Homo sapiens: one gene and its partner. The protein of the gene in region 1 purifies or fractionates together with the protein of each later gene. This does not show direct contact. Each region holds a gene or a part of one and is shown on either strand. Other genes may lie near its edges.

The links.
Region 2: the proteins of ABCG2 (region 1) and CRAT fractionate together in Homo sapiens (co-fractionation; one large-scale study listed by BioGRID). This does not show direct contact.

Annotation. Positions count from the first base shown.
Region 1 is NC_000004.12:88,089,487-88,092,678, reverse strand, and holds the end of ABCG2 (broad substrate specificity ATP-binding cassette transporter ABCG2), read left to right. Parts: intron 1-297; coding exon 298-445; 3' UTR 446-2,410; downstream 2,411-3,192.
Region 2 is NC_000009.12:129,100,779-129,104,599, reverse strand, and holds part of CRAT (carnitine O-acetyltransferase), read left to right. Parts: intron 1-293; coding exon 294-412; intron 413-1,533; coding exon 1,534-1,587; intron 1,588-2,034; coding exon 2,035-2,200; intron 2,201-2,542; coding exon 2,543-2,717; intron 2,718-3,821. UniProt on the Homo sapiens protein: Catalyzes the reversible transfer of acyl groups from carnitine to coenzyme A (CoA) and regulates the acyl-CoA/CoA ratio. Also plays a crucial role in the transport of fatty acids for beta-oxidation.

The DNA of each region.
Region 1 (3,192 bases):
CAAAGTATGACTCTGTAAACCTGGTCAAGTTCCTTAAACGTTAGTCCCCTCATCTTTTAAGTGTGTACAATGTCTATCACATTGGATTGTTTTAGGAATTAACTAAGTTAGGTCCATGTTGTTTGTTAGTGTCTAGCAAAATTGTAAACACACAATGACTGTTAGCTATGATATCTGAAGGGGTAATTATTAAAGGCTTGGTTCAATTTTAGGCTCCTTTAAGGAACAGTGGATATACTGAGTAACATTTGACGGATGCTAGGAATGAAGTTATATTCTTTTTCTGTTTAATTTCAGATGTACTGGCGAAGAATATTTGGTAAAGCAGGGCATCGATCTCTCACCCTGGGGCTTGTGGAAGAATCACGTGGCCTTGGCTTGTATGATTGTTATTTTCCTCACAATTGCCTACCTGAAATTGTTATTTCTTAAAAAATATTCTTAAATTTCCCCTTAATTCAGTATGATTTATCCTCACATAAAAAAGAAGCACTTTGATTGAAGTATTCAATCAAGTTTTTTTGTTGTTTTCTGTTCCCTTGCCATCACACTGTTGCACAGCAGCAATTGTTTTAAAGAGATACATTTTTAGAAATCACAACAAACTGAATTAAACATGAAAGAACCCAAGACATCATGTATCGCATATTAGTTAATCTCCTCAGACAGTAACCATGGGGAAGAAATCTGGTCTAATTTATTAATCTAAAAAAGGAGAATTGAATTCTGGAAACTCCTGACAAGTTATTACTGTCTCTGGCATTTGTTTCCTCATCTTTAAAATGAATAGGTAGGTTAGTAGCCCTTCAGTCTTAATACTTTATGATGCTATGGTTTGCCATTATTTAATAAATGACAAATGTATTAATGCTATACTGGAAATGTAAAATTGAAAATATGTTGGAAAAAAGATTCTGTCTTATAGGGTAAAAAAAGCCACCGTGATAGAAAAAAAATCTTTTTGATAAGCACATTAAAGTTAATAGAACTTACTGATATTCCTGTCTAGTGGTATAATATCTCAGGAATCTTGGCTGAGGGTTTGGAACTGTGGGTAGAGTAGAGGGCCAGGAGTCCAGTAATAGAATTCTTGCACCATTTCTGGAACATTCTAGCTCTGGGAGGTCACGTAACCTTCTTGGGGTAGTTCAGTGGTTTAGTGGTTTATAATCCAGGTGTGCGTCAGAATCATCTGAGGAACTTTGCTAAAATACAAAAATCTGGCCTAAGTAGCTCCAGATCTACCTTCATAAAGGAATCTGACCACTCCTGGATTTGGTAATTTCCAAGTTCTGAAAATTTTACTTAGGATTTAATAACTATTAACATCTGTCCCTACATAGGTTTTCTTTCCTACTTATATACCTTATGTTCTCTTCATTCTAACCTTCATCAGTAATAGGGAAATGTTTTAATTTTATTTTTTTAGTTGAAGGGTAATGTACCAAAAAATATAGTTCAGTGAATTAAAATGAACACACATGTGCAACCATCAATTCAGGTCAAGAAATAGAAGATTGTAGCACACAAAAGCCTACTCAGCCATTCTCCCAGTCACTACTTCCTTCCTTACCCCTGGGTTATTTTTGAAATGACACTTGATGTATTTCCCTCTGTTGCTGTTATGAGAACATTGCTACAGCCAAGTGTTGTGTTTCTGTGTGCATAGGTTGATACTTAATTATCTCCCCACTTTTTAATAAACTTTTAATTTGGAAATAATTTTAGATTGACAGAAAAGTTGCAAAGATAGTGAGGAAAGTTCCTGTCTACTCTTTGCTCAGCTTCCCTTAATGTTAACATTTTATATAGCAAGATGCATTTGTCAAAGCTAACAAGTTAACATTGGTACAATCACTGTTAATTAAACTGCACACAATATTCAGATTTCACCACTTTTCCACTAATATTCTTTCATTGTTCTAGGATTCAATTCAGGAGACCACATTTCATCTAGCCCTCTTTTTTAAAAGTAAATACTTTTCAGCACTTACAGGAGTTAACTGAGCTGGGGCATCATGGTGTATAGACGCCCTGACACTGGTCATCTTGGAATTCATTTAGTTTGTCAGTGGGTGCCCTGACATTCTGTCACAACATCAATTTGGGAACATGGCATTATATTTTTATCTTTGAACTTTTTTCTTTTTGGATGACATTTGATTAATGCGTCATCTTGGAACACATTATCTTTTTTCTTGGTTATGTGATCAGGAAGATTAATCAGTTTTTCCTGTTCTTGGTATAATTCCTGCTTTTCACATACCTGTCCCTTACAGTTCTCTATATATACCCTTCCCTTATTACACAGAGAGAAATATCTATCTATACTTTTTACACAAAATATACTTCAAAAGAAACAAAACAGCCACAATTATTAACTTTTTAAATAAATGAGAATTTAATTATATCCTATTTTATGTATTCTTTTTTTATATTAAAATTACCTTTATATGCTTTTGTTGTGGTAGGAACCAGATAACATAAAATTTACCATCTTAACCATTTTAAAATTAAGGACTTTTTTTTTTTTTTTTTTTTTGAGATAGAGTCTCGCTTTGTCGCCCAGGCTGTGGTGCAGTGGCGCGATCTCGGCTCACTGCAAGCTCCGCCTCCCGGGTTCATGCCATTCTCCTGCCTCAGCCTGTAATGGCTGGGACTACAGGCTCCCGCTACCACGCCCGGCTAATTTTTTTTTTTTTGTATTTTTAGTAGAGACAGGGTTTCACTGTGTTAGTCAGGATGGTCTCCATCTCCTGACCTCGTGATCCACCCGCTTCGGCCTCCCAAAGTGCTGGGATTACAGGCCTGAGCCAGCGCGCCTGGCCAGGAACTTTTTTTAAAGTATGGTTTATTTTCTTATAAAGTAGAAATGTACTTAAGGATATAGATATCCATATATATTATATGTACCCTATATATTATATATATTCTCTGTATTTTTATATCCTCTCTATATATTATATCCTATATATAATTTCTATCTATATAATTATATATATAATGTATATATAATTTATATCTTATATATGGGTATGTATATCCTTAAGTAAATTTCTACTTTATAAGAAAATAAACCACACTTTAAAAAAGTTCCTTAATTTTAAAATGGTTAAGATGGTAAATTTTATGTGCTCATTTTATGTTTTTTATATATATATATTCTTTTGATTTTATTTTCCTGGATGTCAG
Region 2 (3,821 bases), on another chromosome or scaffold:
CACCTTGCTGCCCCTCCCCACACCCCGGGTTTCCTCCTGATCTTTCTTTCACATCCTTTCTTAGCAGCAGCATCGGATTGATCTGGCTAATACTGATCACTCGGGCTAAAGGGAAGAGGCTGGTGGGTTTAAGTTGTGGGGCAGGGAGGGTGGGTTCTGGATCTAGGCATTTACTTTGAGAATCTCCATAGCCAGGTAGAGGGCATGGGGGCCAGCCAGGTCCCCTAGCCCTGGGGAACAGGGGGCACCAGGGCCCATGCACCCCTCCTGACAGGCTCTGGCACTTTTCCCAGCTGTCTGAGTGGTGGCTCAAGACCGCCTACCTCCAGTACCGCCAGCCTGTGGTCATCTACTCGAGCCCAGGCGTGATGCTACCCAAGCAGGACTTCGTGGACCTGCAGGGTCAGCTCCGGTGAGTGGCTGGGGTTTGGGGGCCAGGAGGCAGCCGGGCCCCTCGAGTTCACTTCGCCCAGCCGCTTGGAGGGGCCCCGACCCTGTTTATCTTTCTGCCCCACAAGCAGCCTTATGAAGTAGGGAGCATCCTCCCTATTTTACAAATGGGGAAATTGAGGCTCGGAGCAGGGAAGGGAGCTGCCCAAGACCCCATTCAGGAAGCAGGGTCTCTCCAGCTCTAAAGCCTCATGGCTGTTAACCACCACATCTTCGCAGAGGCCCCATCCTCCTCCATACCTGAGGCTTCTCCCCGACCCCAGTTTTAGCACTTCACCTCTCCTTTCCACTCTTCTCAGCTAGCCACAGGGGTGACCTCTGTACACAGTCCTCTTTTCCACATTCAGCCAGGTCACCTGCCCCAGCCCCTATTCCAGTCCTACCAGAGATAAAAATACCAGTGACAAGGATCTCCTGCCCAAGGACCAGCCACTGGCTGCCACCACCTGCTTCTCTTAAAGGGACCAGGGTACCCTGGGAAGGGCCGGGGTTCAGGCCCAGGAACTCCAGCCACTGGTCCCCATGGTGGGATCCAGGGGCGGCCCCAAGCATTGAGGGTGGTTGCCATGGGCCAGACAGCCCTGGGAGGAAGGCGGCCTGGGGGACACAGAGGCCCAGAGTGGGGAAGGGACCTAGTGGAGGGAACACCGGAGCCACTGCTCTCCCATCACACCACCCCAGGGGCCCGGGGCCTCCAGAACCGATGCTTCAGAGCAGATGACACCCCCTCCAGATTCTAGGCTGAGGTTCAGGAGCTCAGGCCCTTTGTGGGTAGACCCAGCCCACTGACCCCTAACCAAGCCACACTCCAGCTGCAGGGGGCCAGCACCCAAGTCCTACTAGGCCCTTGGCCACCAGCACTTCCCCGAGCCCTCCCGACCATGCTCCCTCTAGAGGTTATGAAGAAGCACACACAGGCTGGCAAGCTGGGACTCGCAGGCCCCTCCCTTGCGCTCCCAGGCTTTCTGGAAGCGGTGAGAGAGGCTGGAAGACTAGACCTCCCGCTCCCCAAGCAGGTGTCCCTAGCCCGGGGCCTCCCTCAGGGTGTCCACGCAGCTTCTAATCTCTAATCAATCTTTCCAGATTTGCTGCCAAACTCATTGAGGGTGTGTTGGATTTCAAGGTCATGATTGACAAGTGAGCATCCCCACCCCTGCCCAGCCCCACACCTGCCCAGGCCTGCTTAATTACCACAGCCACCTCTGACCCCAGCCCTGGCCCGGCATGCCAGCTTGGGCCCTGGGCCCTGCTCCAGCTGCTGGAATCTCCTCTTGGTGGGTGACCCTGTCCCATCCCAACTAAAGAGGACCCCAGAGTTTTATTCGCTGCTTCATCTCCCCTGTGACAAACTGAAGCCCAGAGAGGGGAAAGGAGGGAGTTTCTAGATGACTTCTGAACAGGGCCCATCTGGGGCAGAAAGCGAGCCCCCTGCCCACAGCACAGCCCTGAGGTGTCCTGCTCATCTGGGAGTGGGAGCAGGGACACTGTGTGAGCCCCCAGCAGTACCTAGCAGGTCCCTGTCTACCCTGCCCTCCTCCCCATTCACTTGCCCAGTGGTGGCCTCACTGCCCCTCTACCCCATAGCGAGACCCTGCCCGTGGAGTACCTGGGGGGGAAGCCACTGTGCATGAACCAGTACTATCAGATCTTGTCCTCCTGCCGAGTGCCGGGCCCCAAGCAGGACACAGTCAGCAACTTCAGCAAGACCAAGAAGCCTCCCACGCACATCACCGTGGTACACAACTACCAGGTGGGTGGCCCCCACCCACACCTACAAGCCCCGGCCCTGCTGCAGGAGTACAGCCGGACGGCCGCAGTCGGCTTCCCCACTGGGGTTCCCCAGCACACGTGCCCACGTGCCCCAGGAATGGGCGCCCCTGGCTTCTCCATTGGGGGCCCAGGGAGGCCAGGAGGGGCCGTGGGCCTGCCCAGCCCAGAAGGGTGATCCAAGGACCTCCTCCCCCTCTCACCCTTGGCCTGACTCCATCCCCTCCAAGGCCAAGGCCAGGAGGAGGCAGGTGTGGGGAGGTGGCTGCTCTCAGCCTGAGGTCCCCACTCAGCTCCCTCCTCTTACCTGCCTGTGCCCCAACAGTTTTTTGAGCTGGATGTGTACCACAGTGACGGGACACCCCTCACTGCGGATCAGATCTTTGTGCAGCTGGAGAAGATCTGGAACTCATCCCTACAGACCAACAAGGAGCCTGTGGGCATCCTCACCTCCAACCACCGCAACTCCTGGGCCAAGGCATACAACACCCTCATCAAAGGTGCCTCTTGGGGGCCGTGCTGGGGCTGCACACCCAGGCCTCTTCCCCTGTTGGGGACCAGCCTCAACTCCACCTGTAGGGTACCCGAAGTCTGCTGGCAACAAAGGAATGAGAAGAGACAGGTTAAGAGTTCATGAAGGTGGGAGCCAGGGGCCAGTTGCAAAATGGAGGCTGCAAAAGGCGCAGAGTTCTGGTCTCCACACTATTGAGTGCAGTCACTTAGCTCTAAGAAGCACATGTTCAGGGCGAAACAGTGAAAGGGAGGCAGTGCCTCATAGGAGGCATAATCTATAGCAATAGCAGTTTAAATGAATCTCCTTTGTGCTCAAACAGCGTGTCTTTAACTTATCGGAGAGTAGCTGGTGGGAGCGGGCTTAACTAGGAGCCTGCACATCTGTCCACTTCCCAGTGTTTCAAAGGAGTGTCTTTCTCCTTGAACACAGTGTTTACAGATAGGAGAGCGGGTCTCGCTCTGAGCATGGGAACATGATGGCAATTAGTAGGCTTTCCTCCTCCGTGGCCTCTTCTGGCTTTCCACAACTTATTGTCCCCTATTTTTATGGCCAGTTTATACAGGCACCCCACAAGTCCTTTTCCCAACATTCCCCCGGCATGCTGGGCCCCGCACAGCCATGGGCAGACATGTTTCCCGCTGCATCCTCTCAACGTGGAGCAGGCAATGTGGGCCCCATGTCCTAGTTGAGGACACCTCATGGTTAGGGTAGTTTCTCTCAGCTAAATAGCAAGTTAGGATTAGAGTCCAAGTCCTCTGGCTGAGAAGCCCACCCGCCTCCACACCCCCTGTGCCCCCAAGTACCAGCAGTCCTCCAAAGCATGTCTTGCTCAGGGGCATTGACCCCAAAGTCAGACCACCTGTGTGGGTTCCCCGGCTGCCACACCAGCTCCCATGTGACCCCTGGGCTTCGGTTTCCTGTGTCTAAAGTGGGCCAGGTGTTGGGCCCTGCCTCGAGGAGTGCTGTGGGCCTGCAGGGTCCTGTTGAGTTCGAAGCTCTGAACCCACACCCTGCACTTGGTGAATGCCCTGGAGGGCCGGCGAGGTGGGGGGTCTCCTCATCCCAGAGAGGTACAAATGGGTCAGAAGAG